Linked DNA regions of Homo sapiens: region 1 is linked to region 2. Evidence: fine-mapped expression QTL. A gene starts in region 2. The other region holds a variant in brackets. All regions are shown on one strand. Distances are between the middles of the regions.

The links. PIP is the estimated chance that this variant, and not a neighbour inherited with it, causes the effect.
Region 1: its variant is fine-mapped to the expression of WBP2 in tibial artery (GTEx, PIP above 0.99).

What each region holds. Positions count from the first base shown.
Region 1 is chr17:75,669,212-75,673,600 of GRCh38, forward strand. It overlaps SAP30BP (SAP30 binding protein), which reads left to right. Exons shown (of 11, transcript NM_013260.8): 3 at 2,605-2,652. Among named protein-coding and RNA genes, the nearest start is that of SAP30BP, 4.1 kb to the left of the region's middle. The variant C/T (reference allele first, on the strand shown) is at 2,334.
Region 2 is chr17:75,853,249-75,857,637 of GRCh38, forward strand. It overlaps WBP2 (WW domain binding protein 2), which reads right to left and starts at 2,087. Exons shown (of 8, transcript NM_012478.4): 1 at 1,991-2,087. The coding sequence starts at 2,049. RefSeq lists enhancers at 2,173-2,302, 2,911-3,706 and a silencer at 2,673-2,842.

The sequences.
Region 1 (4,389 bases), 180 kb before region 2:
GGACTACAGGTGGGCGCCACCATGCCTAGCTAACCTATTATTATTTTTTTTTGTCGGAATCTTGCTCTGTCGCCCATGCTGGAGTGCAGTGGTGCGATCTCTGCTCACTGCAACCTCCACCTCCCAGGTTCAAGCAATTCTCCTGCCCTCAGCCTCCTGAGTAGCTGGGATTACAGACACCTGCCATCACGCCTGGCTAATTTTTGTATTTTTCACAGAGACGGTTTCACCATGTTGGCCATTCTGGTCTCTAACTCCTGACCTCAGGTGATCCACCCGCCTCATCCTTCCAAAGTGCTGGGATTACAGGCGTGAGCCACTGCTCCTGGCCGATTTTTAAAATTTAAAAAAAAATTTTTTGTAGAGACGTTGTTTCACTATGTTTCCCAGTCTGGTTTCAAACTTCTGGCCTCAAGCAATTCCCCTGCCTCACCCTCCCAAAGTGCTGGGATTACAGGTATGAGCCACCATCCCTGGCCTTCTTAACTTCTTTCTTGACATTTTATTTGGCACTTTTTATAATGGTGCCCTTAGTTCTTGATCACAAATCTTGCCTGAAGTTCAGTAGGTGCTGGAGAAAGGAGAACCTGTGCTATTATTAACAAGAAAGTCTTTAGACACATAATCACCTGAGCAACATGAGCCAGAATTTAAGTTTGCAGAAAACGCAAGGAAATTGAAGTTGGTGCTTAGCATAAGACAGGCAGAGTTGAGTCTAGATGTCAAATCTGACTGCTTAGCAAGTTTTAATTAAATCACTTAAAATATATTATTTGTTTGAAATTTTTGTTACATGTTGGTATGTAAATGTTAGCATTAAAATTCTTTCCAGCCAAGCACGGTGGCTCATGCCTGTAATCCCAGCACTTTGGGAGGCTGAGGTGGGCGGATCACAAGGTCAGGAGATCAAGACCATCTTGGCCAACATGGTGAAACCCCATCTCTACTAAAAATACAATAATTAGCAGGGCATGGTGGTACGCACCTGTAGTCCCACCTACTCGGGAGGCTGAGGCAGGAGAATCGCTTGAACCCGGGAGGCGGAGGTTGCAGTGAGCCGAGATCACGCCACTGCACTCCAGCCTGGGCAACAGAGCCAGACTCCATCTTAAAAAAAAAAAAAATTATTTCCACAACAAACAGAAATGCGTTTTGTACATGATGCATTTTGGGAGATACTTTCATGCCTTTAGCCCCATCCATTAATATTGATAATTCAGAGTTGACTGAAATTATTCAGAAAAGTTTTGCAAGTTGTTTTCTGACTTTTCTGAAGTACACACATTCTGGCTTAATATTCATAACTCTTTTCTTTAGTACGTTTGCATAATGTGTTTTTGAAGTGTTATTTCATATTTGCTTTGCTTAGAATTTTCATCATGTTTAAGCTTCATTTCATATTTTAGTAAAATCCTCTCATCAGATCTTGTTGTAGAGATTCTGAAATGTGATTGTATTTGTCTGAGCTCCATCTCTGTTTATTTGGCATGACTGATTTCATTTTAAGGAGATTATGGAGATTGCATTTAAAGCCTTGGACTCACTGGTACCTTACAGGACAGTTAAGTCTCCAAATCATGAGTCTAGTTTGTTCAAGTCTCTCGAGTGGTATTTATATTAATATATGGAGTGCTGTGTAATGTTTGGGCTGAAATGTAGCTTTGTTGAAAATAGTAGTTTCAAATGAAACCATTTTTTCCTGGGTATTTAGTTAAAGGCTTCTGTGCATTGGGAGTGTTCTGGGTAGTGGAGGTGACATGGATTTAGCCAGCTAATAAGGTAGCTGGTCCAGCATCTGCTCCTGATCTTTGACCTTCATAGCATCAGCGTTAGCGTTCAGTGGAATGGCGGGCTCGCTTTGGAGAATGCCTTACCGTGTGTGATCCTTTGTGTCAGGCTGACCTCATCTGGATAAGGAACAGGACTGGGTAGAATGGATCACTGGCAGTTCTGTGAGCACTTAGGTGGAGGCAGAGCCCACTCAACTGGGACTCCTGAAAGGTTGGGCATTGCCCTTTAGTCCTGCCTTTCCCAGGTCACTTGCTCAGGTAGTTTGATGCCTGCCTTCCTGTGTTGATGTTTGTGCAAATGCCGGTTGAGGTGCTGCGATACAGCTGTGTGTAAGCCTTGGCACTTGGTGTTGGACACTGTTAGAGTAGGTCCGAGTCTGATGTACATGTGTATATGAAAAGGAAAGAAGGCTCATAATCCTGATTTGAAATAACTGATACTTCAGTGGAAACACGATGCCTGTTTTATTGTGTGGCCTGATCTTACTCTTTCCTAAAACATATTGCAAGCTTTCTCCATTTTTATGTATGTGACTTTGAACT[C/T]GGGCATCTTCATTGATGTGGACTGTCTCACCACTAAAGTAACTTGACTTTGAGCTGCTGATGCTTTTTTGTTTTTTGTTTTTTTCCCCTCCAGAATATCTCTTTTTCCCCTTATTTTTCTCTGGTTCTGAGTTATATGGTAGGGGAGGGATTCTTGGTGGGATGACCCCAGCTGGGTAAATGGGCTGTTTGCTCCGGCCCCTAGTTATGCATGTGAGACTCCTCAGGCCCGCTCCTTTAAGCTTAATCCTCTAAATTCTTTGTCTTGTAGGAAGATGACGATTCAGAGACTGAAAAACCTGAGGCTGATGACCCAAAGGTATTTGGTGTTGGCTGTGGTGGGTGGCTGGATGCAAACAAGGTGTTTGAACACTGTGGCTCAGTTCGTATGTTTGGTCAAGATCTGTCCCACTGACAAACTGTGCAACTGTGTGGACATTTTCTGGGATAAAATAAGCTTTATAAAGAAAGAACCTGGAGACAACTCAGGAATGAACAAATCCTGAGACACATTGGATTTCCAGCCTTTCAGATTGTGCCATATCTCCTGACTAGAAAGGCGAGAGGCCTGGCTGAGGCCAACAACCCACTTGCATTCTGCATCCCAGATGGGGCTTTAAGTGTCACTGCCCTGCAGGTGGATTAGTCTGTTTCTAGACCCAGGAAGGTGTAAGGGCCGCCTCGCGTGCTTTGGGTTCTCTTTAGTCATCTAGAAGTGAACAAGAGGCTATAAGAAGGTCAGACCAAAATGAGGCCTCTCCCCAGCTCTCAGGGATGGTGGGTCTAATGCTCATTTTCCTGGGGGTGTGTCCATCCACTTTTGGGCAAGCTGTACAGAATGGTCTTTTTCGGAACAACATAACTATTCTCATAGTGTCATCCTAGTAGCAGCCAAGAGTAATTTGTAGCAATTCCTATCACATTCCATAATGATCTGTTGTGAAGGTTAAGACACCCTTGTGTTGGTTAAGCTGCTGTGCTGTGCATTGGCCATTAGAAATGTGTACTTGCTGAAGAGTCATTTTTTATGAGGAAAAACTTCCCCCCTGTACCCCCAAAGAAAAAGACTTAATTATATCACTCTAGACCCGGGGAATAAGGACCCATTTTGCAGTTAAAAACTGCTTTGAGGCCAGCCGCAGTAGCTCACGCCTGTAATCCCAGCACTTTGGGAGGCTGAGGCGGGAGGATCACTTGAGGTCAGGAGTTCAAGACCAGCCTGGCCAGTATGGTGAAACCCCGTCTCTACTAAAAATACAAAAATTAACTGGTGAGACTGGTGGGTGGTGCACACCTGTGATCCCAGCTACTGGGGAAGCTGAGGCAGGGGAATTACTTGAACCTGGGAGGCAGAGGTTGCAGTGAGCCATGATCTGCCAATGCACTCCAACCTGGGCAACAGAATGAGAATCTGTCTCAAAAAAAAAAACAAAAAAAAACTGCTTGGAAACCAGCTGTAACTTTCAAGATGACCTAGTAAAATTTAGGAAATTTATGCCCAATTAAAATCTAAAACAGTAATATTCTTGAAAATATAGTGTGAGCTGTTCCATATTTGAGCTGATTCTGTGATTGGATAGAACTGTATGTAGCCACTAAAATCTTGAGACGTTGTGAGTGAGAAAGATAAGAGTGTGTTTTACCAGGAAAGAAAGTTTTGGCGCCAGCATGCAGGAGGGAAAAAAAAGAACCCCTGAAAACTGTAAATGCAACCTGCTTTCTATGCTGAGTGAAAAACCTGGAACCCAGGCCTGAGAACTCGCCCTGCCTGAGAACTGGCAAGATGGTATGGGCAGACCCATGGCCCCATAGTTCAAAGTCAGTCACAGCTCTCCTCGGGCTTGCAGAACAAAACACTCAGTAGTGATAATCTTCTCTGCCTAGTATTTAGGGTATGTGGGACTTGGAGCCTGCACGTAAAACAAGCCCAGGGAGCCGTTAAGTGTTTGGGTTTCAGTTGTGGAGGGAAGGGAGGATCTGGGTCCTAGAGTCTTTCTGGGTACAGTTGCAGCCTTTTCTTAGGGCTGGAAGGCTTCCTGGGGAAGTTGGCTGGAGA
Region 2 (4,389 bases):
TTGGTCAGGCGGGTTTCAAACTCCTGACCTCAAGTGATCCACCCACCTCAGCCTCCCAAAGTGCTGGGATTACAGGCGTGAGCCACCATGCCCAGCCTAATTATCAAATTTTGGACACTGGACTTAACACTTCAATTGTTATAGATACAACTTTTTCAGACAGCAGGCTGAAGCACTTTCTAAAACAGCAGGCTGAAGGCACACCTTACTTAGCAGGACTGAGCCCTAAGCCAGGTAGAAGGCCGAGCAGGATAGATACATTCTTGTCTCAGAAAGTTCCACAGAGACAGAAAGAAAAACAGTCCCCAGAGATGTTGCCAAATGGCACGAAAAGCTGGCCAGGCCTGGGAACTGACTCACACACAGAGATGCAACAAAACAGTGTGAGGTGTCTCTGATTACATGATAAAAAGGTTCACACGGTTCTGTTTGTCTTCTGCCTCCCCCCATATATCACAACTTTCTCTGACTGGGGAAGGGTAAGTGGGAAACAACTGGTATAAGCAAAGGAAAATGGCTGGGCGCGGTGGCTCACTCCTGTAATCCCAATACTTTGGGAGGCCGAGGAGGGTGGATCACGAGGTCAGGAGTTCGAGACCAGCCTGCCCAACATGGTGAAACCCTATGTCTACTAAAAATACAAAAAATTAGCTGGGTGTAGTGGCGGGTGCCTGTAATGCCAACTACTGGGGAGGCTGAGGCAGGATAATCGCTTGAACCCAGGAGGCGGAGGTTGCAGTGAGCTGAGATCGTGCCACTGCACTCCAGCCTGGGCGACAGAGCAAGCCTCCATCTAAAAAAAAAAAAAAAAAAAAAAAAAAAAGAGAAGAGAAGTACTGCTCAGAGAAAAGAAGGAATTACCAGCAACAGGCTGGGCCCATGAAACTCTGAGCGGGTAAGATAGAGGGAAAGTGAGCATGCTGGGTCACTCTAGGCATTTTCCTCTGACTCATCAAACATTCCCAAGTCACAGGGCAGCTGGATGCTGGCCTTAGCTGGGTACAGGGCTCTGACTCCACGATGTCTCCTTTGGGGACTCAGGTGCCTCCTAAGCTCCTTCTGCCTTCAAGAGGCAATTCAGGGTCGGCATAGTTCAACCCAGGGCTGGCTGGTCTGATTTTCAATACCCAAGGAACAAAAGGAGACAGAGGCCATTTAAGGCTTCTCTTGGCAGAGACTGGAGGAGAGACAGGATGCAATGAGCAAGGGGTGGGGAGGATGGAGTGGAAAGAACCTTGAATTAGGAGAGCTCTGCCTTCCGAGGTGACCCAAACCAACAGGCATTCAAGAGAGAGGCAAGGGAATGACTACGGACCCACACAGTGCCAGGAACTGTTAGACACCTGACAAACGTCATCTGTTTAATTTCACCTCTGGGACCTCAGTTTTTTACCGGGAACCTGAACAGTTCTGGAACATACTGGAAGCCTGTATGCTGGTGGTTAATCCTATTAACTTTGGAGTCAAGACTCCTTTCCTGGAATTACCACCTCTGTTACTTACACAGTTGCGATCTCGGGCAAGTTACTTAACCTTTCTGCCCTCCACTTTCCCTACCTGTGAAATGTGGACAGTAGTAGATTATACTGCACAGAATTTATTAAATAAGGTAGAAAAGGCGCAGAGCCTGACACGTAGTAACGTTGTAGACATCCAATAAGTGACAATTATTTTTGTTTGGGGCTCCTCCCAGCTACTGAAATCACAAGTCTGGGAAGGGGTTCAAGAATCACCCCTAGGCCCCACCGGGGGCCCCATACCAGGTCCCCATGCAGACGTCCCACCCCCGCCTCCCAGCTGATCACAACCTCCCGGGCTCTCCCCCACGGCCCACCCACCTTCCTCCAACCCCGCCCCCAGCCGTTCCCCACCAACCTCACTCCATCAGTGCTCCCTCTTCAGGGGCTTATTCCCCACCACCCACCACCCACCGCCCACTTCCTCGACACCCGAACTTTGGTCCTCCAGGATCCTTCCGCAGTGTTTTCACCTCTCGGTGTTATTGACGATCACTCCGCCGCCCTCCGAGTGATTCTTGTTGAGCGCCATAGTCTCTCCAACAGGGGTCCCGAGACTCAAAACGCAATGAGCTTGCGCCCCTCTTCGCCCCGCCCCTAGTGGCGTCTTCTTATTAGAGTCAGCCAATCAAAGCTCGAGTGCGGAGGCTGGCCCAAACACCTGACCCGAACGTCACGTGGTAATAGTTTACTCCCTCCTTCCAGTTCCTCCTGCGCAACAAACAAGATGAAGACTACAATTCCCAGCAGGCAACGCCCCCGCAGCCTCGGCCTGTCCCTATGCTGGAGGAAGGATGCATTCTGGAACTTGTAGTCTCCTGGATCATAGGCCTGAATTGGTTCCACATTTTGCGTAACCAATCGGCTTGTGCCATCCCCACCCCGCCTCTTCAGCCGGACGGAAATAAACAGTTCCGCTCCTGGCAGGGGCGCGATCTTGGGGACTCCGGCAGCGCGTTAAGGGAAGTCCTGCTGGTCGAATGCGACCTGGACATGGCGTGGGAGCGCCGAGCTGTCCCCTTGTGGATGGGGAGCTTTCGTTCACTCAGCAGACGTTTATGGGGCGCATGCGTGACTCTGGGGCGTTTAGCTGAGCCGGAGGCCCCGGCTCTTGGGGACGCGGTGGGCTGGCGGCGTCGGATCACCCCGCCATCCATCTCACCACTCCCAGCGCTGAGCCCGGGGGGCGGGGAGAGTCCCTCATGGGAAGGGGAGGCCGTGTGCCCCGCCTGGCTCCCACCACGTTCGCAGGCCGGCCGGGCGCCCCTCGCAGCCCCCTCTCCGGCCTCGCGGTGGCGCCGCTCCCCCCTTAGCGCCCAGCGGGGTCCCGGCCGGAAGACTGAAGGCTGAGTGGGACTGGGCACGGCGCGAAACCGGCATCCTGATAACTAGGATTTACAGAATAAGGCTGACTCCTGTCAGCTCGTGACCCAGCCCTGGGCGTCCTCCACGGGGCAGCTGTCATTCCCTAACCGCCCCCCACCAAACCCCTGCACCTCCGAGCTGAATCCGTGAGGCGGAGAGAGGGGGCTGCACTTCCCACGTGGTAGTTCCGGTACTCGTTAATGTTAAGGAATTAGAGTTTGCTTTTCAGTAGACAGCTGCTTTCCTGACTGTGGTGGCCAACCTCTAGATCCACCTGCTTGACTTCGCTTTCCAGGGAGGTCTCCTATGTGAAGAAACAAAGCTGCCTCACTAGAAAAGATCAGGAAACAGCAGCGTTCTGTGAGGTCCTGTGCAATACCAGGTTGGACCTTGCGGGACAAGTACAGTGGGTTAAGGATAGTCATAATGAAATCTGCCCCAATGGTTAGATGTATTTTGGCGCCTGCAATCTCTGCAGTCTTTAAAAAGAATTAAGTCAGACTATGTGCTGATATGGGAAGATCATCAAGGGTTATTAAGCACAGAATGCTGTATACATATAGTTGTATTTGTATAAAAAATAGGATCTAGATAGAAAATTTTTGCAAAGATCCATCAGAAAATGTCTGTGGCATTTTTGAGACATGGGTCTAGGAATTTGGGGTGGATTGGTGACTCGGTATGTCAGTATGCATTGTACTCTTTGGTACTGTTTAATTTTTTTTTCCTATGTGCGTTTAAAATATAAATTTAGGCCGGGCGCGTGGCTCACGCCTGTAATCCCAGCACTCTGGGAGGCCGAGGCGGGCGGATCACGAGGTCAGGAGATCGAGACCATCCTGGCTAACAGAGTGAAACCCCTTATTAAAAATACAAAAAAAAAAAAAAAATTAGCCGGACGTGGTGGCGGGCGGCTGTAGTCCCAGCTACTTGGGAGGCTGAGGCAGGAGAATGGCGTGAACCCGGGAGGCAGAGCTTGCAGTGATCTGAGATTGCGCCACTGCACTCCAGCCTGGGTGACAGAGTGAGACTCCATCTCAAAATAAAATAAAATAAAAATAAATAAATAATATGTAAATTTAAAAAAGAAAAGCAGGCCGGGGTTTGTGGCTCACGCCAAAGGCGTGAGCCAAATTCCAGCACTTTGGGAGGCCAAGGCAGGTGGATCACCTGAGGTCAGGAGTTCAAGACCAGCCTGGCCAACATGGTGAAACTCCATCTCTACTAAAAATACAAAAATTAGCCGGGCATGGTGGCGGGCACCTGTAATCCCAGCTACTCGGGAGGCTGAGGCAGGAGAATCGCTTGAACCTGGGAGGCAGATGTTACAGTGAGCCAAGATCATGCCACTGCATTCCAGCCTAGGCGACAGAGCAAGACTCCATCTCAGAAAAAAGAAAAAGAAAAGCAAAATCCAGGCCTGGTGCCGTGCCTGTAATCCCAGCACTTTGGGAGGCCAAGGTGGGTGGATCACTTGAGGCCAGGAGTTTGAGACCAGCCTGGACTA